Homo sapiens: one gene and its partners. The main gene of each other region encodes a partner of the protein of the gene in region 2 in a complex. Each region holds a gene or a part of one and is shown on either strand. Other genes may lie near its edges.

What was found.
Region 1: TAF12 (region 2) and TAF3 share a complex: the UniProt entries of both Homo sapiens proteins name them as parts of the TFIID basal transcription factor complex.
Region 3: TAF12 (region 2) and TAF6 share a complex: the UniProt entries of both Homo sapiens proteins name them as parts of the TFIID basal transcription factor complex.
Region 4: TAF12 (region 2) and TAF8 share a complex: the UniProt entries of both Homo sapiens proteins name them as parts of the TFIID basal transcription factor complex.

Annotation. Positions count from the first base shown.
Region 1 is NC_000010.11:7,821,505-7,828,541, reverse strand, and holds part of TAF3 (transcription initiation factor TFIID subunit 3), read right to left. Parts: intron 4,225-7,037; coding exon 3,982-4,224; intron 1-3,981. UniProt on the Homo sapiens protein: The TFIID basal transcription factor complex plays a major role in the initiation of RNA polymerase II (Pol II)-dependent transcription.
Region 2 is NC_000001.11:28,602,314-28,605,068, reverse strand, and holds the end of TAF12 (transcription initiation factor TFIID subunit 12), read left to right. Parts: intron 1-1,494; coding exon 1,495-1,530; 3' UTR 1,531-2,219; downstream 2,220-2,755. UniProt on the Homo sapiens protein: The TFIID basal transcription factor complex plays a major role in the initiation of RNA polymerase II (Pol II)-dependent transcription.
Region 3 is NC_000007.14:100,116,334-100,123,775, forward strand, and holds the start of TAF6 (transcription initiation factor TFIID subunit 6), read right to left. Parts: upstream 3,026-7,442; 5' UTR 2,871-3,025; exon of another isoform or gene 2,547-2,870; intron 2,317-2,546; exon of another isoform or gene 2,142-2,316; coding exon of another isoform or gene 2,063-2,141; intron 682-2,062; exon of another isoform or gene 269-681; coding exon of another isoform or gene 181-268; intron 1-180. Other genes in the region: CNPY4 (protein canopy homolog 4 precursor), read left to right, coding at 3,412-3,529, 5,926-6,052, 6,148-6,244, 6,451-6,573. UniProt on the Homo sapiens protein: The TFIID basal transcription factor complex plays a major role in the initiation of RNA polymerase II (Pol II)-dependent transcription.
Region 4 is NC_000006.12:42,067,497-42,074,533, reverse strand, and holds part of TAF8 (transcription initiation factor TFIID subunit 8), read right to left. Parts: intron 6,070-7,037; coding exon 5,927-6,069; intron 3,188-5,926; coding exon of another isoform or gene 3,066-3,187; intron 1-3,065. UniProt on the Homo sapiens protein: The TFIID basal transcription factor complex plays a major role in the initiation of RNA polymerase II (Pol II)-dependent transcription.

The DNA of each region.
Region 1 (7,037 bases), on a different chromosome or scaffold from region 2:
GGGGAGAGAATGTTCTTGGATAAAACACACTGGGTACCAGCCATCAGAACTGTAACAGTCCAAGCAAAAATATGCATGTATAAAATATTTTCAAAGAGGTCTCACTTCTAAACATATAATCAGATAAAGCAGGCAATAACTCCTTCCACATCATCTCCTCATCTGTCATCTTCACACTGCGGATAATCACACAGCTCCTCAGTCAAGTACCTATCCAGCCCAGCTAGTAAGTCTGTTCCCTCAGATCCTCAGCACGTGATGGTAACACTACTTTACATTGATTCGTCTCTTTTTTTCAGAGACAGGGTCCTGCTATGTTGCCCAGGCTGAAGTGCAGTGGGCATTCACAGGCTCAATCATTGCGCACTACAGCCTCAAACTCCTGGGCTCAAGCGATCTTCCTGCCTTGGCCTTCCAAGTAGCTAGGACTATGGGTGTGCCACTGAATGCAGCTTGACACCGATTCCCCTTATAGCGTGACTTCACTAATGTATATTGTATTTCAATTCAAAAGTAAATTATTTAAGAGCAAGAAAAGAAAAAGGGGACGAGAACTAATATTCGCTGTCATGTGTTTTATTTTTTTTTGAGACAGGGTCTCGCTGTCACTCAGGCTGGAGTGCTGTGGTGTGATCATAGCTCACTGCAGCCTTGACCCCTGGGCTCAACTGATCCTCCCACCACAGACTCTGATAGCTGGGACTACAAGCGTGCACCACCATGCCCAGCTAAGTTTTTGTTTTTGTTTTTTTTTTTTTTTTTGAGACAGAGTCTCGCTCCGTCACCCAGGCTGGAGTACAGTGGCACAATCTCGGCTCACTGCAAGCTCCACCTCCTCTGTTCACGCCATTCTCCTGCCTCAGCCTCCCGAGTAGCTGGGACTACAGGCACCCGCCACCACGCCCAGCTAATATTTGTATCTTTAGTAGAGACGGGGTTTCACTGTGTTAGCCAGGATGGTCTCGATCTCCTGACCTCGTGATCCGCCCGTCTCCGCCTCCCAAAGTGCTGGGATTACAGGCGTGAGCCACTGCGCCCAGCCAAGTTTTTTATTTTTAGTAGAGATGAGGTCTCATGACGTTGCCCAGGCTGGTATCAAACTCCTGGGCTCAAGCTTCAGCCTCCCAAAGTGCATAAGCCATCACACCTGGCCCACTGTTATGTATTTTATATGTTAAACACTGTCCAATTTTATATAAATGTGTTAACAAAAAAAAATTACTTGATTCTCCATTTCCCCAATGTGGTAGGTGTTATTACACTTATTTTACAGATGAATATAAAGTTCAGAAAGGTAAAGTGACTTGGGAAGACCAGAAACTCAGTGACTCGCTGAGTCATGTCTCAGTGATGCCGTGAGGTCCACGCTGTGCCTCTCACAGCCTGCTGCCCCTTCAGGCCTTCTATGTGTGCACACTCGCCAGCTCCAGCTGCTGTGGAGGGAGACTTTCACAGGCTTTTTTGACATGAACCAAGCTGAGTGGCTGATAAGAGGGAACCCCATGGAAGGACCTTGCTAATAATATTTTAAGACCAAAGTCTGGCCTGTCTGTGGCTCTTAAGGAAATAAAAGGAAAATAAAGAGCATGGTGAACAGCATCATTATCAAAGGGGTTCACCTCTGTACCTCACTTTGCACCACTAATCAGAATACCAGGAACTTTCTAACATGCTGTACCCATGAAAAAAAAATATTTCAGATTGTAAATGACAAGAAATGGTCTTGTATGGTTATATTTTTAAATGGTAACCAAAGAATTGCATTTTATATCCTTTTCTTATGAAGAGGAGAACGTTTTGACAAGCATCTTACTGTACTGCCTACCACTTACTGCATCCTTATAAACCATATGCATATATTACAAATCAGCAATATTTTTCCTTCTTAATCCACATGTGTTAGATAAAAAGTGAAAAGTAGTGTTCTCAAGATTTGTTATTTTCCTTTTAAAATGTTTATAATTTATATTGTTTGCATAAAACTAAATGAGTTTCTTTTTTTGCTTCAAATAACCCAGAAAAGAAACCCAAAAATCTATAGTAATATAGTAATTTCAGCCAGAAGTCAGTATCAAAACAACACAAAACAAAACAAAAAAAACACTAAATTGTTTTTCATACTTCTTCACTACCTAATCTAAACCTGTTATCTTAGTTACATTTCCTTGCTAGTATTTAAATATGATAACCATAGCACTTTAAGAGAATTTTATTATGGAATATTTGCATGCTATAAAAATAAGACAAGAAGGACCAAATAGTTAAGTGTAGATTATGATCAAAGTCCTAGTTTTGGTTCTGGGCTGTCGGTGTGTTAGTATCATTCAGTAGAACCCACTGCAGCTAAGATCCAGAGCACCTAAATGATGAGCCACCAATTCACAACAAATCCCTACCACTTAGGTCCAGTAGCTGTCCAGTTTTTCAGATGAGGCAACCCTGACACACAGACTGTACAACAACTTATGCCAAATTTAAACATACTTCCTGAGACAAATAGGTAACACTTCAAAATGCTATTAAAGTAGAACCGATTCTAAGAAATGAATTGCAAGAAATTGGAACCCTTGGGCACTGCTGATAGGAAGCTTAGATGGTACAGCCACTGTGGAAAACAGTGTGGTGCTTCCTCAAAAATTAAATAGACAATTACTATATGATCCAGCAATTCTACTTCAAGGTACAGACCCAAAAAAAAACACCTGAAAGCAAGAATTTGAACAGAGATTTGCACATCGATGTTCATAGCGGCATTAATCACAAGAGCCAAAAGGTTGAAACAACCCAAATGTCCATCAGTGAGTGAATGGATAAACAAATGTGGAATGTACATATATTATTCTGCCTTAAACACACAACGAAACACACAACGAAATCCCGACACAGGCTACAACATGAATGAACCCTGAAGACATCATACTAAGTGAAGTAAGCCAGTCATAAAAAGACAAATAATGTCCAAGTCCATTTATAAAAGGTACCTAGAATAGACAAATTCAGAGAGACAAAAAAAGGAATGGTGGTTGCCAGGGGCTGGAAGTGGTGGAGAATGGGGAGTTATGTTTAATGGGAACAGTGTTTCAATTTGGGAGGGAACAAAAGTTCTGGAGAAGGATGGGGATGATGGCTGAATAACAATGTATACTTAATGCCACAGAACTGCACACCTTTACAATGGTCCATTTATGTTATGTATATTTTACAATAGAAAATCATAAGTAAAAGTAATTGCTGGCATCATTTGCATTGTCCTGAAGTATACAGGTTTTAGAATTTTTTACAAAATGAAAGAACTTATTGCAACTTTTCCAACTCTTATAAGAAAAAATATCGTGTACTTGTGTTAGAGACCAGAAATTACTTAAATATCTCCTTAGAATCTTAGTGAACTTAGTGATCAACATCTAAAATTATGCAGGAAAAAAGGGAACTCTGCAATTGGACTGACCATTATACCTGATTAGCTATCATTTTATAATCAAAAGTTCTATATGATCAAACAATAAACATTGCTCCTCATGATAAAAAACAGAAGTCTACACAATGTCACTGAATACTCACGATTCACTCACTGTTTCCAGTATAAAGCCATGGCATTCAACTCATGGCCTGAATAATAAGCGAGGAGGAAAAGAGCTACCCCAATTTTTCTTTTTGTTTCAAATGTTTTCTAATTTACCTAATATCCCATTCTCATATAATAGGGCTGTTGAAAGGCTTCTCTTTGGCTTCACTGTTTTCCTCTACTTGAACTTTACAAAGGAGATAAATGCTTCAGACATGACCTTGATTACACCGTGACTCGGCTTGGTAATGTCAGTTGCAAGTTTGTTGGTTTAAGGGTTAGAATAATTTGTAAGTAACAGTAAATGTTTCTATTGTGTTTCCAGAATTTATAAAGTTGACATAGCATGGAAAGCTAAGAGGATTAAAAATCCATTAAAATAATCACTAACATATGAAGAAGAAACACTCACAAACCTTCTTGAGAAGACACAATGGGTGGCAGGTAATCAGGAATGTATTCTTTTCTTTCCTCTGCATCTTTACTTCCAGGTTGAGGAAACTGAAGTACATTGTTCTTGCTAACAGGAAATGACGGAATTTGGTGTGGGAAGGTGACAGGCTCAATGTTGTGAATATAGTCTTCTAGTTCATGTAGACTAACCCCCATCAGCTGGAAAGCTTCACCAACATCATCCAAAATTGGGTCTGTTCGGCCATCTGAAACAAAGTGAAAAGCAAATCAAATTATTTGAAGAAATCCCACGAATATATTTTTAAATATTAAGAAAAAGTAGTAAGTAAATATGCAGCTCAGAATCAAACATTTTAACCTAGTTATTGGAAAGAATTTAATAGATTTTAAAGAGTATCACAGAATCATGTTTAAGCTGATTATTAAAGTCAAGTTTAAATATAATCAGACAACTAGCCAGAACACCACAGAAAAACCACATTCATGATTAGCTATTATAGAACAAATTTCAAAGTAGTTTACAGATGATCAAAAGCATCTGGAACAGCACCTGACACACAGAAAATGCCCCAAAAATAATAATAATAAAATAGTGTTTTGTCTTTTTTTTTTTTTTTAAGAGATGGCATCTTAGCTGGGCGCGATGGCTCACGCCTGTAATCCCAGCACTGAGAGGCCGAGGTGGGCGGATCACAAGGTCAAGGGTTCGAGACCAACCTGGTCAACACGGTGAAACCCCGTCTCTACTAAAAATACAAAAATTAGCCGGGCGTGGTGGCGCAGGCCTGTAATCCCAGCTACTCAGGGGACTGAGGCAGGAGAACTGCTCAAACCCAGGAGGCGGAGGTTGCAGTGAGCCGAGATCGTGCCACTACACTCTAGCCTGGGCAACAGAGCAAGACTCCATCTCAGAAAAAAAAAAAAAAAAGAGATGGCATCTTGCTTGTTGCCCAGGCTGAAGTGCAGTGGTATGATCACAGCTCCTTGCTGCCTCAAACTTCTAGGCTCAAGCGATCTTCCCCTCTCAGTCTCCTGAGTAGCTGGGACTATAAGCACATGCCACCATGCCTGGGTAATTTTTTTTTTTTTAATTTTGTAGAGATGAGTTCTTGCTATGTTGCTCAGGCTGGTTTTGAACTCCTGGCCTCAATCAATCCTCCTGCCTCTGCCTCCCAAAGTGGTGGGATAACAGGCATGAGCCAATGTGCCTGGCCTTTTTTTTTTTTTTAATCATCAAATAAGTAGTGTGCTGTGCTGACAAAGTCAATGTTGGTTACATTTCCTCTGTTGTTCCCTGATGCATCTGCAGAATCTTAAACAGTGGCTGGCACATAGCTGGCACTCAATAAATACCTATTGAATGAATTATACCATTAAATCAATTTTTAAAATCTAAGAATATTTACAAAGAAGGCTTAGATCATAAAAGTTTGGTTTTTGTTCGTTTTTTGAGACAGGGTCTCACTCTGCTGCCCAGGCTGGAGTGCAGAAGGGCAATCATGGCTCACTGCAACCTTACCTTCCCAGGCTCAAGCCATCCTCCTACCTTCACCTTCTGAGTAGCTGGGACTACCAGTGCACCACCAACATGCCTAGCCATAAAGATAATTTATCTATAAATTTTCAAATGTAATTAGAAAACACCACATAAAACAGAGATAAAAAGTTAGATATAGAGATTTTTTTCTTTACAAAAGCAAGTTTTTCTTATGCCTATTCTTAGCAGAGCTTAAGGTCTCTACATCTTTAAAAATGTCTATGAAAATTCCATTTTCTGATTTTCAATAGCCTAAAGGATTTAACTGAAATCCTGACTTTTTAACTGAAATCCTGAAATTTGATCACTTCAAACTCAGTATGTCTGAAATTAAATCACACTGTAAAATGAAAAAGAATCCAAATATTGCTAGAATTGGACGCATGTGTAGTAATGCATACAGAAACCTCTGGAAGGATATTCAGCCAATGGTTAACAGTTCGAGGGGTGGAAGCTGCAGTAGAGGCGAGGGCTGTGGTGGAAGCAGGAGACTGACTTCTAACTCCACATACTTCTGCAGTCTTTGATTTTTTTTTTCTATAAGTATGGGTTACTTCTGTGATGCATTAAAAAAAGAAAATAAATAAAACGAATACTCTTCTTCTTACTGAATGTAAACAGGCATTTCATCTCTTCTATTCCTATTAAAGCTATTATTACTCTCTCAGTCTAAAAAATATAATAATCTTAAATTCCTCCATATGCTTTGCAGCCTCAAACCAAAACCTGGTAGTTTCTAACCCTGTCCCCGTCCCCTTCGGCCACCTTTTTTTTTTTTTTTTAACCATGATTTCAGATTTTTTTCCTTTCTCTCTATTCTTACTGTCACTATCTCAGTATAGTCTCAAGTTCTGCCCACTTCAATCTCTTATGCACATCACTGTCAGTACAATTTTCTTAAAATACCACTTTAATCATACTATTCCCCTACTTAGGAGTATGCAATGTTTTCTACTACATGTTTTAATTCTTTTGTCTAGCTTTCAAGTCCTTCCATAACCTGATCTCACTCTGTTGAACATTTTACTCAGACACCCTTGGAATGAACTAGCTGCATAGGGAGCTGAACACCTTACTGGTACTTTTATTATGCTTAATCTCACCTGGACAGCTTAGTTTATGTGATTCTCTAAGCTGGAATACTCTATACCTTTATACAACCATACTTCACAGCTCAACTCAAATCTTATCTTTTCTGTGAAGTAATCCTACCCCAGAATCTATAGCCTACAGCCATCTCTCCTCTTATCCCTTTTACATTTACTCCCTGTACCATGCAAAAAAATATTACAGTACTAGTGTTGAAGAGTCAGTCTGAAAGATTTAGCACCTGCTTTCAGTACATGCCAACATATTTAACATATAATGTGACACCGACAGAGACATCTGCCCTTGAATGCTTGGAGACATTGTTACCCTAAGGCAATTCTTAAGTTCATTATTTGTTCATTATTTGAATTAATGGTAACTTCTAATACTTGCTTTAACTTGAGAACATTTCTTTTAGAAGAAACAAACACC
Region 2 (2,755 bases):
CCTTAATGAAATCTTCCTTCATTGTTGCTGATTGCAACACCATATATGGTCCTATGAAGAGAGGGCAGGTTAAAGAAAGCAAAAATGTGCTGTACTTGTTCTGAGAGGTAGTATCCAGGCTGCCGTGCTGGACATTCTGGCCTGTGTCCTGGTTTTACCTTTGAACAAGGTTCCCTCTGAACAAGGAACCTAGGAGTCAGTGTGAGAATACTACTTCTGCTGTGGAGCAAGTCATCCCCATCTTTGGTCAGTCCAACAGCAGTGTTGGCCTCCCTCTGACAAGGCTGTTATCCTTTCTGTCTTAACTTAAGTGGCTACTCTGATTTGAAACGTGAGCTTTTTCCAAGCTTAGCAGGCACAACTGGGCAGTCCTGGTTGAGTGCCCCTGCTTCGCCATAGCCTGGTATCTCTGGAGCCGGTGTTTGTAAAGCTCACGAAGCAAGCCCTAAAGGGAAGCCACCAGTTTCCTGAATGGAAAGATTGCACTGTTCAGAAGAGAGTCCCTGCAAACAATGGACTGTCACTTTGTGCTCCCAAGTTAACCATTTTCAGCCCTATTTATTTAGTCGACAAATGCCATAATATTGGTATTTGGTCAAAAAGAATGAACAAAGTAAGTTGTTAATTTGGCTAGTAGCTAGTAATAGTAAAAGAATTCAGATCATGAAACCTATGATCTGAGTGTTTCCATGATGGACTGTGGTAGAAGTTGTTAGTCTTCAGTTTCCCTTCAATGCAGGTCATGAGATGTGAAATGTCAGCTCCCTTTGTGTGTGGCAACACTTTGAAATTGAGGCCCCTTCCCTATTGTGTCCATCATTGGAGAAAAGATTGGGGTCAGGGGACCCCAGAAAACACATGCTTGGCCAGGCGCAGTGGCTCATGCCTGTAATCCTAGCACTTTGGGAGGCCGAGCCTGGTGGATCACTTGAGGTTAGGAGTTTGACACCAGCCCGGCCAATGTAGTGAAACCCTGTCTCTACTAAAAATACAAAAATTAGCCAGGCGTGGTGGCACGTGCCTGTAATCCCAGCTACTGGGGAGGCTGAGGCAGGAGAATCACTTGAACTTGGGAGGCAGAGGTTGCAGTGAGCCGAAATCATGCCACTGCACTCCAGCCTGGGCAACAGAGCGAGATTCCATCTCAAAAAAAAAAAAAAGAAAGAAAGAAAACACATGCTTTGCCAGCTTATTCTCTAAGTCACCAAAACTCAAGAGCTGTCACTTTCTCCTGCTTTTAACTTTTTTGCCATTCTGCTAGCCTAGAGCAGTTTGGTGGATGAAATGGGTCCACTAGCCCATCTAAACATCTCTTGGGGCCTTGCAGACTGCTCTCTGGTTAAAAGGAATCTACTGAGATGCCTTGTGACTGCAGGTCTCTGAGGGCTGCGGCCTACAGTGTAGACCATGAGGCCTGCTAGCCACACAGAATGTTCCAGAAAGCTCCTGACTCCAGCTGCTGCTGTATAACTGCTTATTTGTCTCTCCTTTCAGAGAATGGCATTGATCCGGAAAACAACCAAGAAATAACACACGGAAAGGTCAGGGAATGGACAGCAATGTATTTGGAGATACTTGAGCTGAGAACTCAGCCATCTCATCCTTGGATTTTTTTTTTTAATGCTTTACAGAGAAGCATATATTTTTTATTAACAGTGCAGCAATATCTATAATGACTGAGAGGATCTGCCAAAAGAATAAAGCCTCCTACCCCAACTTCCGGTCCCTTTTCCCTGCCATCTCAAAGAGGAGCAATGTATCTTCCAGAGAAGATTTTATTTGTGGTTTATTATATAAGTGACTGAATATGGGACAAAGCATTATGGTCTTTTTGGGTAAGACAGTATTAGCAGGATTTGTAAAGGGTTTTGTTTCCTTCTCCCTTCCCCTTTTCCCTGTACTTTGTAATGTCAGTGTTTATATGAATATGACTTTCATTTGCTTTTCCAGAATAAAGAAGTTATTAATCGAAAGACAGGGTACCTTTGAAATCCCAGAGGGAGTCAGGACAAGCAAGCCTGGATTGTAGCTCTCTAGTCAGCAGGTGGCAGCATCGTTATTCATTTTGGTGTTTGAGAAAAACTCAGGGATTTTCCATCATTTTACCCCAAGGGAGGCCATAACATCAGCAGGAGTTTGAGTCCAGCTTCTCGGCCATAAGAATTGAGTAGGGTGACCTTCTCTCACGGCCCTCAACTGAAGAGGCATCCTTGTTTTGGCAATGTTATATGCCTAAAAACCCTTTTTGGTTTTTTTTGTTTTTTTTTAATTTTTTTTTTTTTGAGACGGAGTCTAGCTCTGTCACCCAGGCTAGAGTGCAGTGATGTGATCTTGGCTCACTGCCACCTCAGCCTCCCAGGTTTAAGCGATTCTCCTGCCTCAGATTCCCAAGTAACTGGGGTTACAGGCGCCTGCCGCCACACCGAGATAATTTTTGTATTTTTAGTGGAGATGGGGTTTTCACTGTGTTGGTCAGACAGGTCTCGCACTCCCAAAGTGCTGAGATTACAAGCGTGAGCCACCGCGCCCGGCCTAAAAACCCTTTTTGACCTGCTCTTCTGGAACTCCTGGAGAAAGCTGTGTTTGTCCCTGTCCCTGAGAAAGGATGGGAGTAGGCCCCTGTCCTCAGGATAGGCATGTCTGTGCAGGTGCCCATCTCTTCTTAGTTGCTGTTATCTTTGATCCTGGTGTTTTCACCATCATGCAGAAGAAACCAGGCGCCTTCCAGACCTCTGGGTCATGTCCTTCAGTGGCA
Region 3 (7,442 bases), on a different chromosome or scaffold from region 2:
CAACATAGCAAAACCCCATCTCAGGCCAGGCACAGTGGCTCACGCCTGTAATCCTAGCACTTTGGGAGACGAAGGTGGGCGGATCACTTGAGGGCAGGAGTTCAAGACCAGCCTGGCCAACATGGTGAAACCCTATCTCTACTAAAAATAAAAAAATTAGATGGGCATGGTGGCGGGCACCTGTAATCACAGCTACTCGGGAGGCTGAGGCAGAAGAATCACTCGAACCCGGGAGGCGGAGGTTGCAGTGAGCAAAGATCTGTGTCATTGCACTCCAGCCTGGGCAACAAAGCAAGACTTCTTCTCAAAAACAACAACAACAACAACAAAAAAAACAGACGAAATCCTTATAATGTCCTACAAAGCCCTTCAAAATTACCTTCTCCCCATTATATCTCTGAACGCCCTTCCTTCTTCCACTTTGATCCAGACACATACATTCCTTCTGGCTGCTCCTTAAACTTGCCAGGTATGTACTTGCTTAATAGCCTTTGCTGCATTCCCTCTGCCTGGAATGTTCTTCCCAAATATCTAATTGGCTGCCTACCCTGACCACCCTATTTAACTCTGCACTCTGCCCTCAGAGTGGGGGCAGCCCACTTTTTCTTTTCCATAGCATTTAACATCTTTTGGGCATGGCGCAGTGGCTCACGCCTGTAATCCCAACACTTTGGGAGGCCGAGGTGGGCAGATCACGAGGTCAAGAGATCGAGACCATCCTGGCCAACATGGTTAAACCCCATCTCTACTAAAAATACAAAAATTAGCTGGGCGTGGTGATGTGCACCTGTAGTCCCAGATACTCGGGAGGCTGAGGCAGGAGAATTGCTTGAACCCAGGAGGTGGAGGTTGCAGTGAGTAGAGGTTGTGCCACTGCACTCCAGCCTGGCAACAGAGTGAGACCCCGTCTCCGTCCACCATCTAGACAGGGCTCTTTTTTTTTTTTTTTTTTTTTGAGCTAGAGTTTCACTCTTGTTGTCCAGGCTGGAGAGCAATGGCGCGATCTTGGCTCACTGCAACCTCCGCCTCCCAGATTCAAGCAATTCTCCTGTCTCAGCCTCCTGCGTAGCTGGGATTACAGGCATGCGCCACCACACCTGGCTAATTTTTGTATTTTTAGTAGAGATGGGGTTTCACCATGTTGCTCAGGCTGGTCTTGAACTCCTGACCTCAGGTGTTCCACCCACCCTGGCCTCCCAAAGTGCTGGGATTACAGGCGTGAGCCACTGTGCCCGGCCGACAGAGCTCTTTATTATGTTCACTGATGTATTCCAGGAGCCCAGCCTGGGACATCATAAATATTTGTGAAGTAAATGAATTAGTTGTAAGGCTTAGAGATATTGGTGCTCAGTAAATACTTGGTATCACTATTATTAATAGGTCATAGGCCCAAGCTTTGAGCCTACACTGTAGTTAAAAGCAAACTGGGCCGGCCGTGGTGGCTCACGCCTGTAATCCCAGCACTTTGGGAGGCCGAGGCGGGCGGATCACTAGGTCAGGAGATTGAGACCATCCTGGCTAACAAGGTGAAACCTCGTCTCTACTAAAAAATAGAAAAAATTAGCCAGGCATGGTGGCAGGCACCTATAGTCCCTGCTACTCGGGAGGCTGCTGAGGCAGGAGAATGGCGTGAGCCCGGGAGGCGGAGCTTGCAGTGAGCCGAGATCGCACCACTGCACTCCAGCCTGGGCAACAGAGCCAGACTCTGTCTCAAAAAAAAAAAAAAAACAAAAAAAGCAAAGTGGAGCCAGGTGCAGTGGCTCACGCCTGTAATTTGGGAGGCCAAGGCGGGAAGATCACCTGAGGTTAGGAGTTCGAGACCACCCTGGCCAACATGGTGAAACCCTGTCTTTTTGTAAAAACACAAAAATTAACCAGACATGGTGGCGGGCGCCTGTAGTCCCAGCTATCTGGGAGGCTGAGGTGGGAGAACCGCTTGAACCAGGAAGCGGAGGTTGCAGTGAACCGAGATCGTGCCACTGCACTCCAGCCTGGGCGATAGAGAGAGACTCCATCTCAAAAAAAAAAAAAAAGCAAATTGGAGCCAAGAGAGGTAACTCACCCCAGTAATCCCAGCACTTTGGAAGGCAGAGGTGGGGGGATTGTTTGAGGCCAGGAGTTTGAGACAGCCTGGTCAACATAGTGAGACCCCCATTTCTGCAAAAATTAAAAAATTAGACGGACCTGGTGGTGTGAACCTGTCATCCCAGCTACTTAGGAGGCTGAGGCAGGAGGATCGCTTGAACTGAGGAGTTGGAGGCTGCAGTGAGCCAAGATGGTGCCACTGCACAACAGCCTGGGTAACAGACGGAAACCCTGTCTCAAAAAAAAAACAAAAAAAAATTAAAGTGGCACACTTGCAGTTGGACATTAGGAAGATTAACATATCAATACTGCTTAGGAGTAGTACAGGTAGGGTGGGGCCGTGCTGGAAGGATGGGAAGAGGGAGGCCGAAAAACAAATTGGTTCTTTTCAAACCATCCCTGATCTCCTCCCCGACTTTTATAAGTCTTATCTATAGGGAACACAACTATTCGAGACATACTCTGTGCCTGGCGCCGGGTTTACAAGAGGGGGTCGTGTCCCACTTCCCTGGCGAACTCCTACGAATCCTTCAATACCCGGCGGTACCCTCTGCCAGTAAAGGCTCATAAAACACGCTACAGTCACAGGATCTCCTCAGATCAGTGGAGGCGGCAGGAAGGCGTCCCAGGGAAGGGTTAACTTAAGCGAGATCCCAGCAGAGAAGCAGGTCGAAGATCCCCGGGCAGCGCGAAAGGAGGTTCAGAGAGCCCACCCCATCTCCTGCAACATCTCTCCAATGCAGGCACACACACGGGGTCCCCACGAGCACAGACACACAACCAACCGTCCTCTTTCCAGTCCCCACAAGGGACCTTCAAAGGGTCTCCTCCGGGGTACCACTCAGACCCGCCCCCGCCACCCGAGCGCGGGGAGCAGGAAAACTCTAGCGGCAGCCGAGACGCTGCTCACCCGGCGCTCGGCGCCATCTTGGCCCCGCCCCCTCGTGGGAGCAGGTCCTGGCAGAGCCTAAGAGCAAGTCACTGCCCCTTCCCCGTACCAGAATAAGTCCTCTAGGCTCGCAGAATGAAATTATATTTTAAAAGTTTGTTTCTACATCTATATATAAGGAGCACTCCCTCTTGGTGTAATTACTGCAATTTATTCCTTCACTACCCGGCTGCCAGGACCTTCAAGAGGCGCCACAAAACGGAGGCAGGGAAACCCGTAGCAACGAGGCCCCACCCTTGTTGGGCTGATCCTGCGCATGCGCCGACCTTCCTCGGCTGGATTTAAGGTTGCCGCTAGCCGCCTGGGAATTTAAGGGACCCACACTACCTTCCCGAAGTTGAAGGCAAGCGGTGATTGTTTGTAGACGGCGCTTTGTCATGGGACCTGTGCGGTTGGGAATATTGCTTTTCCTTTTTTTGGCCGTGCACGAGGCTTGGGCTGGGATGTTGAAGGAGGAGGACGATGACACAGAACGCTTGCCCAGCAAATGCGAAGGTATTTGAAGGGGGTAGCCCCTATAGGCATCGCCCGGCCACACCTCCTTCTTCTAGGCCGGACATCCTAGCCTGTATTGGGTGGGTCACCCGACCTCCTTGAAGGCTTGAGGGAGGTTCTGGTGGAGCTTGGCTGAATTTGGATGGGGTCAAGGAAGCGAACGTGTAGTGCCACCTCAAACTGCATCCAGAGAGAGCCTGCATTTTTTTGGCTGGCTTGGAACCCCCCGCCCGCCAATGGATTGTGGGAATTGTAGTTCAGGGACCATCGGCCCGGGACTGCCAACTTTTAGAGCATCTTCAGTGAGTGTTTACCTCATGTCACCAGACCTTAATCTGCAGAGGCTGCAGGAGCCGGGTGTGAGGCTCAGGCCTTGTGGACATCCGCTGCCCTACCCTAGCATAGACGCTCCCAAATTACAGGCCCCACACCCCGCTGAGGGGGTTTGAGGGTGAGTAATTCAGCCTTTGAAGCTCATAAACAAAAGGAAGCCACACAACTAGGAGAGTGTCCCCATCCGGTGAGACTTTGCAGACGGTGCGTACTATATGGATTTTTCAGCAAGCAGCGCCTTCCATAGCTGCACTAGCGTGGGGCCCAGTTGAGAAAGGGGGCTGGCCCTGATGCCCTAGTTTGCTGCCCTCCTGACTTTACGTTTCTTCCCTGGATTCCTTTTCTCTTCGCTTCACCCCCTCAACTGTATTCCAGTATCATGAAAGGCAGTCATGACAGTCTCATGACTTGGTCCTCATCTCTGTCTCCTTTCACCTCCGTGTGCCGCTCTTCTCCCCTGACCTGTCAATCTTTTTAAACAGACTTAATCACCTAATTGTATCAGTCCTTGCTTTAACACCTCTGCAGGCCTTCTATCAGAATACAGCCAACGGGCCTGGGCACAGTGGCTCACATCTGTAATCCCAGCACTTTGGAAGGCCAAGGTGGGAGGATCACTTGAGCCCATGAGTTCAGGCCCAGCTTCACCACAGCTTGTCATCCTTGGTTTATCTGTCCCAACTACACTGACAGAGACCTGTAGATAGAGATAATAGGTCTTATTGCTGTCTATATTGTTAGTATGCATACAGAAGGAGCTCAATAAATAACTGCAGGATAACAGTGAATACTTATACAGTGCTCACTATGTGCCAGCCTTTATATATGTTGATTTATTTAATCTTCATCACACTCCTATGAGGGACATACTATTATTATCCAATTGTATTAATTTTATATATATATATATATATATATATATTTTTTTTTTTTTTTTTTTTTTTTTTTTTTTTTTCTCTTTTCAGACAGCGTCTCATGCCGTTGCCCAGGCTGGAGTGCAGTGGTGCAATCTCGCTCACTGCAACCTCCGCCTCCCGGGTTCAAGCGATTCTCCTGCCTCAGCCTCCCAAGTAGCTGGGATTACAGGCGCCCGCCACCATGCCCAGCTAATTTTTGTATTTTTAGTAGAGACAAGGTTTCACTATGTTGGCCAGGATGGTCTCAATCTCTTGACCTCGTGATCCACCCACCTCAGCCTCCCAAAGTGTTGGGATTACAGGCATGAGTCACTGTGCTGGCCTATTTATTTTTAATGTATTTTACTTTTTTTAAGATGGAGTCTCCCTTTGTTGCCTGGGCTGGGGTGCAGTGGTGGGATCTCAGCTCACTGCAACCTCCACCTCCTGGGTTCGAGTGATTCTCCTGCCTCAGCTTCCCGAGTAGCTATTACAGGTGCGCACCACCACACCTGGCTAGTTTTTGTATTTTTAATAGAGATGGGGTTTCACCATGTGGGCCAGGCTGGTCTTGAACTCCTCAAGTGATCTGCCCGCCTCAGCCTCCCAAAGTGCTGGGATTACAGGTGTGAGCCACCACTCCTGGCCTATTATCCCATTATAAAGATGAAGAAACCGGCCGGGCGTGGTGGCTCACGCCTGTAATCCCAGTACTTTGGGAGGCCAAGGCGGGCGGATCACAAGGTCAGCTGATCGAGACCATCCTGGCTAACACGGTGAAACCCTGTCTCTACTAAAAATACAAAAAATTAGCCGGGCGTGGTGGTGGGTGCCTGTAGTCCCAGCTACTCGGGAGACTGAGGCAGGAGAATGGCGTGAACCCAGGAGGCGGAGCTGGCAGTGAGCCGAGACTGCGCCACTGCACTACAGCCTGGGCGACAGAGCGAGAGTCCGTCTGAAAAAAAAAAAAAAAAAGATGAAGAAACCGAGGCACAGCAAGCAGGAAGATTGCCACACAGCTGCTAAATGGCTGAGCCAGGATTCCAACCCAGCCAGTCTGGCTCCATAGTCTGCACTTGTATGCTCTGCTGCCTCAGGTCATCTGCAGAATGAATGGCTGGTGTGTTTGTCTTTTACCTCCCCCCGGACGTTTCTCCTCCCCACCAGTGTGTAAGCTGCTGAGCACAGAGCTACAGGCGGAACTGAGTCGCACCGGTCGATCTCGAGAGGTGCTGGAGCTGGGGCAGGTGCTGGATACAGGCAAGAGGAAGAGACACGTGCCTTACAGCGTTTCGTGAGTCCTTCGTGCTCCTCCCCTTTCCAACCCCCAACGGAGCCCTGGGAGTTCCTACAGCATCCAGGGAATCTTTGTTTCCTCTCTTTCCACAGAGAGACAAGGCTGGAAGAGGCCTTAGAGAATTTATGTGAGCGGATCCTGGACTATAGTGTTCACGCTGAGCGCAAGGGCTCACTGAGATATGCCAAGGTCAGACCCTTCCCCAGGGCAGGACCCCACTTCTCAGATACAAAGATCTGTATCCCCTGAGGCCCTCCAGAGGTTATCTGCCCATCATCTCACCATCATGGAACTCACCCTTGAATCTCCAGTAGTTGACAAAACTGAAATGGCAGAAAGGGGAAGGGAGGGGTGGGGTGGTGAGCTGGGCTGATGCCAAATTCTTAATCTCTCAGGGTCAGAGTCAGACCATGGCAACACTGAAAGGCCTAGTGCAGAAGGGGGTGAAGGTGGATCTGGGGATCCCTCTGGAGCTTTGGGATGAGCCCAGCGTGGAGGTCACATACCTCAAGAAGCAGGTAGGATAAGACACTGCACCATCCAGGGAGGTGAGAAGGGAACCTGAGAGGGGAGCTAGGTTCTAGGGTTTGACTATAGGGGATGTCTACCCCTAAGCATGGGGAAGGGGCCAGAGTGAGGACTGTGCCATTGATTAAAGTGGGTCCAGGAGCGGTGGGGTGCGGTGGCTCACACCTGTAATCCCAGCAATTTGGGAGGCTGAGGCAGGTGGATCACCTGAGGTCATAAGTTCGAGACCAGCCTGGCCAACAAGGCAAAACCCCGTCTTTAATAAAAACACAAAAGTTAGCTGGGCGTGGTGGTGCACGCCTGTGATCCCAGCTACTTGGGAGGCTGAGGCAAGAGAATTGCTTGAATCCAGGAGGTGGAGGTTGCCATGAGCCAAGATCGCACCATTGCACTCCAGCCAGGGCGACAGAGCAAGACTCCATCTTAAAAAAAAAAACAAAAACAAAAACAAAAAAAAAGAAATCATAATGAGCCGGGTGGAGTGGCTCACAACTGTAATGCTAGCACTTAGTGAGTCTGAGGGAGAAGGACTGTTTGAGACCAGAGTTAGAGACCAGCTTGTGCAACATAAGAGACCCCCTTCTCTACAAATAATAATAATTTTAAAGAATTTTTTTTTTCAAGACGGAGTTTCACTCTTATTGCCCAGGCTGGAGTGCACCGGCACCATCTCGGCTCACCGCGACCTCCGCCTCCCGGGTTCAAGCCATTCTCCTGCTTCAGCCTCCCGAGTAGCTGGGATTACAGGCCCCTGCCACCACGCCCAGCTAATTTTTTGTAATTTTAGTAGAGACGGGGTTTCATCATGTTGGCCAGGCTGGTCGAACTCCTGACCTCAGGTGATCCACCCGCCTTGGCC
Region 4 (7,037 bases), on a different chromosome or scaffold from region 2:
GTGTCAAACTGACCCAGAGATTTGTAAAAAAAAGTGGGAGCAGAATGGTCCGTCAGGAGCTCCCTGAATTGCCTGTGAGCTCTAGCAAGGCCTACACCCTCTGTGGTGACTGCATCCAGTCTCCCAGCTCTCAGTGCCATCTCTACGCCAACAGCTCCCTGGAGTACAATGCCAGCCCTAACCTCTCCCGACTTCCAGGCTCATGCAGCCAGCTGCTCACTCAGCATTTCCACTGGGGTATCAGGTAGGCAGTTCAGACTTCAGGCACCTAAGTCTGAATTGGGGACCTTCCCCTGTGGTGTAAACGGCGCTTCTCAGTCCCTCCCATCACAAGTGATGGCAACTCCATCCTTCTAATGGCTCGAGTCACAAACTCTGTGGTCATTCTTGCTTGTTTTCTTTCTTTTATTTTTAAACAGGGTCTCACTATGTTGCCCAAAACTGGACTCAAATTCCTGGGCTCAATCTTCCTGCCTCAGCTTCCCAAGTGACTGCAACTATGGGCATGCACCACCACACCTGGCACACTCCTTTTCCTTCACTGACATCCCATACCCAATCTGTTAGCACAGCCTCTTGGACTTACCTTCAAAATTCAGGCAGGCACTGACCACTTCCACCACCTCTGTGGCAACCACTCTACTTGGGCCCACCACTGCCTCTCGCCTAGGCTATAGCGACAGCTTCCTGACTGATCTCTCTAGTCCGTTCTTACCGAGCCATCAGAGTGGTGCTTTAAGAAGCTCAGAAACATCCCTCCTCTGCTCCACGCCCTCCCACAACTCCCATCTCTCTTAGTTAAAAGCCAGCTCTTAAAATAGCCTACAAGGCCCTACCCAATCTGACCCTCCCTCCCACAAGCCACTCACTATTCCACAGGGCCTTTGCACTGCCCATTCCCTCTGCCAGAACACTCTTCCCCAGATATCCACATGGCTCACTCCCTCACCCATTTCAAGCTCCTGCTCAGATATCCCCTTCTCAGTAATGCCTACTCCGAGCACCCCACTTAAAAACTGAAGACTCCTCCTCACCCTGGATCTTCCCCTACTGTTTTTCCCCCACACAGCACTTTCATTTCTGATATACTATGCAACGATTTAGTCATATATTGTGTTTGGTATCATTCTCCCACAGCCAAACTCTGCTCCTAAAAGGCAGAGGTTTTCTTTGTTTTTCTCACTGCTTTATCCCAAGCAGCCAGAAAAAATATCTGGCACATACTAGGTGCTAAATAAACACTGGTTGAGTGAGTGACTGGTATATTTTTCATAAAAGAGTAAAAGCTTAGATATCTGGGTTGGCTGCAGAGAGCAGCTGGTTCAAATGTGTGAGAAAAGAATCTATTATACATGAATTTAAATTATACATGAATTTAAAATGAATAGCTCCTTTATGTTCAAGTACATGGAGAAACTAGAACCAGGTTAAATAATGTACTGCCTAACAACAGACCTTGAGAGGTGCACTCTCATCAAGAGATAAAATAATAATTTAAAATACCTGTTATTGGCTGGGCGTGGTGGCTCACGCCTGTAATCCCAGCACTTTGGGAGGCTGAGGCGGGCGGATCACGAGGTCGGGAGATCGAGACCATCCTGGCTAACACGGTGAAACCCCGCCTCTACTAAAAATACAAAAAAATTAGCCGGGCGTGGTGGCGGGCGCCTGTAGTCCTAGCTGCTGGGGAGGCTGAGGCAGGAGAATGGCATGAACCCGGGAGGCGGAGCTTGCAGCGAGCCGAGATCACGCCACTGCACTGCAGCCTGGGTGACAGAGCGAGACTCGGTCTCAAAAAAAAAAACAAACAAAAAAACCAGTTATTTACTTTGCTATAACAATGTCTGTAAATGGTAAAGACAGAAAACAACCTAAGTGTTCATGGGGGACTAGATAAATTAAATGGTTACATCCATACAATGGAAGATAAAGTAGCTGTGAGGAACGATGCGCCTCCTCCCTTACAGATGTGGAATGACCGCCAAGATACAGCCAGGAAAAAAGCAAGAAGAGAACAGTTTGTGATCTGCTGTTTCAGTTCAAAATAACAATTTAAAAAAATGTCTCTAGAAGGCTACATAAGAGGCTGGTGAGACAGTTGCTCTGTGGGAGGGAAAGTGGGTAACAGGGAACAGGATGGGAGGGATTGTCACCATACATCTTTTTGCACACTCTGCATTTTGAAACATATGATTGTATTTCCTAGTCTAACAAAATAACATTAGGTCCAACTGACTGTAGTAAATTGTCACTAGAATCTTTGTCTTGGAGTCATTTGATTTTATTTTTCACAGAAGGGCATATGGTTAGATAGCCTAAAACAGCAGGGGAGGGAGCAGTGTGTGCTAGGAGCTGCCACATGCCAGGCACCTGATAGATACCAGCTCTGTCTCACGCTCCCCCTGTCCCTTGAGGTAGGTGTTTCTGTTTCTACTTACAAGAAAATAGACTAAGGCGTAAAGTAACACAATCACGGTCACACATGTGGCAAGCAGCACAGCCTGGATTTGAAGCTAGGCAAGTCTGACTCTAAGACTCAGGCCTTCCTACACTCCTGCTGTCTGCAACCCTGGCTTGGCCTCATGGTATTCAAGAGTCCTCAGGCGGTTGCTGACACTCTTTAGGTTCAATTACCACCATGACCTCACATCACTACGGGACCGTCAGTGAATGCATGTCCAAGCCCTTTAACTATATTGTACTTACAAAGGTATGATGACGTTTGTTTACATGATTCCTCTTTCTCATAAGGTGAACCTCAACTTAGTCCATGACCCAATCACCATATCTCAGCCCAAATTAACAGAAGCGTACAATAACAATTTCCTCTGCTTTATTTAAAGCCATGGTCTCCCAGCCCTAATTCTGAAAGGAATAATTCAATATTTAAAAAAAAAAAAAGTATATCCAGGCCGGGTGTGGTGGCTCACGCCTGTAATCCCAGCACTTTGGGAGGCCAAGGAGGGTGGATCATGAGGTCAGGAGTTCAAGACCAGCGTGACCAACACGGTGAAACCCCGTCTCTACTAAAAATACAAAAATTAGCCGGGCGTGGTGGTGCGTACCTGTAATTCCAGCTACTCAGGAGGCTGAGGCTGGAGAATCGCTTGAACCCAGGAGGCGGAGGTTGCAGTGAGCCAAGATCTTGCCACTGCACTCCAGCCTGGGTGACGGAGCGAGACTCTATCTAAAAAAAAAAAAAAAAAAAAAAAAAAAAAAAAAGTATGTCCAGGCAAATAAGACCTTCAGCAAATAGAGATGACACAGGCATATTCCACTAGCAACCCAGGGTGGCTGGCTGCCATTTGGGGTATCACATCTTAGAGAACATAAGGGATGCTCAGTCCAACTACAGCCACTAAGGCATCCAAACTAGTGCTGATTTTAAAGGATGGTTGAATATGGCAACCTGACTATATAACCCTATTAGCCTTAAGGGCATTCCAGCTTCTGGCGGTTCTGCGATTGTACTTGGCACTTTCTCCAAGGGTGCAGGAACAAGAGGGGGCTCTTATCCTTTCACTCGCTGAGTATGACACACCGGTGAGCAGAAAAGAAAGTATACCCTAAAACAAACTAGGACTAGAACACCTCCTTGCCCACCTTTGTCTCTGAACCCACATGTTGTCTCCTATCCTGGGTATGAAATGTCCAGAAGAAGGCTAGTCCCTCCATTTGGTCACGGGCCCATCCCCTCTCGTCTACCAAATGACATCATTCCCAGACTTTTCTTTCTCTCCTGTATCCATTTTCCCTTTTGACTAGATCATTCCCAACAGCATACAAACACGTTATTTCTTTTATCTTAAAAAATAAAAACACGAAACACCTCTCTTAATTCCTTCATTTTCCCCCTTTTAGTTACCACTGCATCACTCTCCCTCCCTGTACTGCAGGAACACCACACGACTTTCTGTGCCAATGGAAATGTTCAATATTTGCACTGCCTAGTAGAGCAGCCACTGGCCGTATGTGGCTATCAGACACTTGAAATGAATGTGGCTAGTGAGGTTAAGGAACTGATTTTCAGTTCTTTTCTTTTGAGACAGAGTCTTGCTGTGTCGCCCAGGCTGGAGTGCAGTGGCGCGATCTTGGCTCACGCCAAGCTCCATCTCCCAGGTTCACGCCATTCTCCTGCCCCGGGCTCCCAAATAGCTGGGACTACAGGCGCCTGCCACCACGCCTGGCTAATTTTTTTTTTGTATTTTTAGTAGAGATCGGGTTTCACCATGTTAGCCAGGATGGTCTCGATCTCCTGACCTCGTGATCTGCCCACCTCAGCCTCCCAAAGTGCTAGGATTACAGACGTGAGCCACCGCGCCCGGCCTTTAGTTTTATTTCATTAATTTAAATTTAAATACCTACACGTGGCTAGTGGCTGCTATAAGGGACAGCACAAGTCTATACTCACTGACTCCTCTTCTCTCCTCCCATTCTCTCTGAATTTACTCCAGGTCTTCGCTCTCATTCTTACTGAAATGGCTCTCATCAAGGTCACAAATGACATCCACACTGCCAGATCTAATGGTTGAATTCTCAGTCCTCCTACCATTGGAGCCACCCACAGCTTTGGACACAGCTAATTGCTCTTTTCTCCCTGAAACACTTACTTCCCTTGGCCTCCAGGACACAGCCCTCTTCCAGTTCTCCCACCTCCATGCTGGTTCTTCCTCATCTCTTCAAGCTCTACACACAGCAACAGCTCCAGGACTCAATGTGCCTCCTCTTCTTATCCTCACTCATCCCTGGAAGAGCTCATCCACGCTCATGTTTTTAGACACGACCTACAGGCTGCTGGCTCCCAAATACGCATCTCCTGCCCTAACTGCTCCTCAAACTCCAATTATATATCCAATTCTTCACCTGACATCACCGCCTGATGTCTAACAAGCATCTCAAACTTAACACATCTATGTTTAAGACACGAACATCAACTCCTGACTTCCCCCACACACCTGTTCTACCCGGTGGTTGTTCCTATCTTGGCTGAAGGCAATTCCATCTTTCCTATTGTTCAGGCAAAAAACCTTACCGTTTTCTTTAACTCTCATATCTACTCTATCAACTGGCTCTGCTCTGAAAGTGATCTAGAATCTGACCAAATGATCTAGGTGACCACATCTCCTTATTTTTGCTCCTCCTACCATCTCTCAGTTTACTGTGACAGCATCCTAACTGGTCTCCCTGCTTCTGCCTGCCCTCTATAGCCCATCCTCAGCACAGCAACCTGACTGACCCTGTTAGCAAACCTACCTTGGATCCTGACCCTCCTCTGCTCAACATCTCCAGTGGGTCCACCTTACTGAGTAAATGGCAAAGTGTCTAATCTAACCTTTAAGACCCTGTAAGATCTGACTCCCCGTGGGCCCTCTCGGACCTCATCCCCTACTGTTCTCCTCCTTGTTCACTCCACTCTGGCCACCCTGATGTCCTTGCTGTTCTTCAATACAACAGGGGAGCTCCTGCCTCAGGGCCTTTGCATCTGCTGCCCCTGCTGCCTAGAATGGCTCCACCCCCAGACATGTCCATGCCTTGTTCCCTTCCGGTCTTTACTCAAATGCCCCCTTCTCGGTCACTCTACCTAATACTGCATCCCTCCCATTCCCATCCCCACTTCCTATCTCCTCATTTATTATTTTTCATTAGCCCCATGAGGACAGGGAATTTTGTTTATTTGGCTTCCTACTAATATCCCAGCACCTGGAACTGTATTTGTTGAATGAACGAGTGAATCCCCAGGACACGGATGTGTCTCTAAGCAGGAGATTGGGTCACATCTGGATCATCACGCAAGCCCTTATGCAGGCCCCTAACAGAAAGCCAAAGAGACCTGAGGTCGATCATGTCCAGGTCCCAGGGTGACAGACTGAGGGCAGTGTGCGACAGTTTGGGGGATACTCTGAGGTAGGCAGAAGGTGGAACCCACCATGCTGATATGAAGAGCAAGGTTCTCTGTGTCTGTCTGTTCATCCTGCTCCGAGGAATCTGTCTCTTCCATTTGTTGCATCTCCAGTTCAGACGGAAGAAGAGCTGTCAGGTAGGGGATGGTGAAAGGTCTGGCAGCAATCACTGGCGAATTGGAAGAGAGGCATGAGTCCACTGTCACAGAGACCTCGCAGCTGGCTTAGAGTCCTAGAGCCTCACAACAAATCAGTGAGCAGCACCAGAAGATAATACTAGCTAACTCGCTCCAAGTACTTACACAACAGGCCAGGCAATGTTCTACGGGCTTTACTCATGTTATCTTTCATCCTTGCTCCCATCCTATTAAGTACGATTAGGCACAGAGAGGTGAAATGACTTTCCCAAGCATGCTAAAAATGGCAGAATGGGATTCTAACTCAAGCAGCATGACTTCAGAATCTACTTTTTGCCAAGTACAACTGAGATAAGATGGAAATGAGGCTATAGATAGAATCCTAGCAACACATAAGTTTTGAGATCCTGCACCCAAGGTCAGTTAAACCCCTCTAAGCTTCACTTCCAGAGCAGGAATATTGATTCTTTTACCCTGAAGGACTCAAGTCCAAAGGCTGGATTTGAGCACTCTGCATATATGCATGTCCACTGAGCTGTAAGACACTCTGGTCAATGAGAGTTCTAGCTCTTCCAAAAAGCAATGAGGATGAGAGGAAGAAATTGAATAAAAAATAACATTAAAAGAAAGAAGGCCGGGTGTGGTGGCTCATGCCCATAATCCTAGCACTGTGGGAGGCTGAGGCAGGAGGACTGGTTGAGCCCAGGAGTTTGAGACCAGCCTGGGCAACATGGTGAAATCCCGTCTCTAGGAAAAATAAAATTAGCCAGGTATAATAGTGCATGCCTGTAGTCCCAGCTACTAGGGAGGCTGAGGTGGGAGACTCATTTGAGTCCAGGAGGTCCAGGCTGCAGTGAGCTGTTTGTGCCACTGTACTCAAGACTGGGCGACAAAGTGAGATCCTGTCTCAAAACAGAAAAAGAAAAAGTCTCTGTGTGTACTTCTATGGTAGAATGTGACTGTTAGAAAATACTCTAGAATTGGCTGGGTGTGGTGGCTC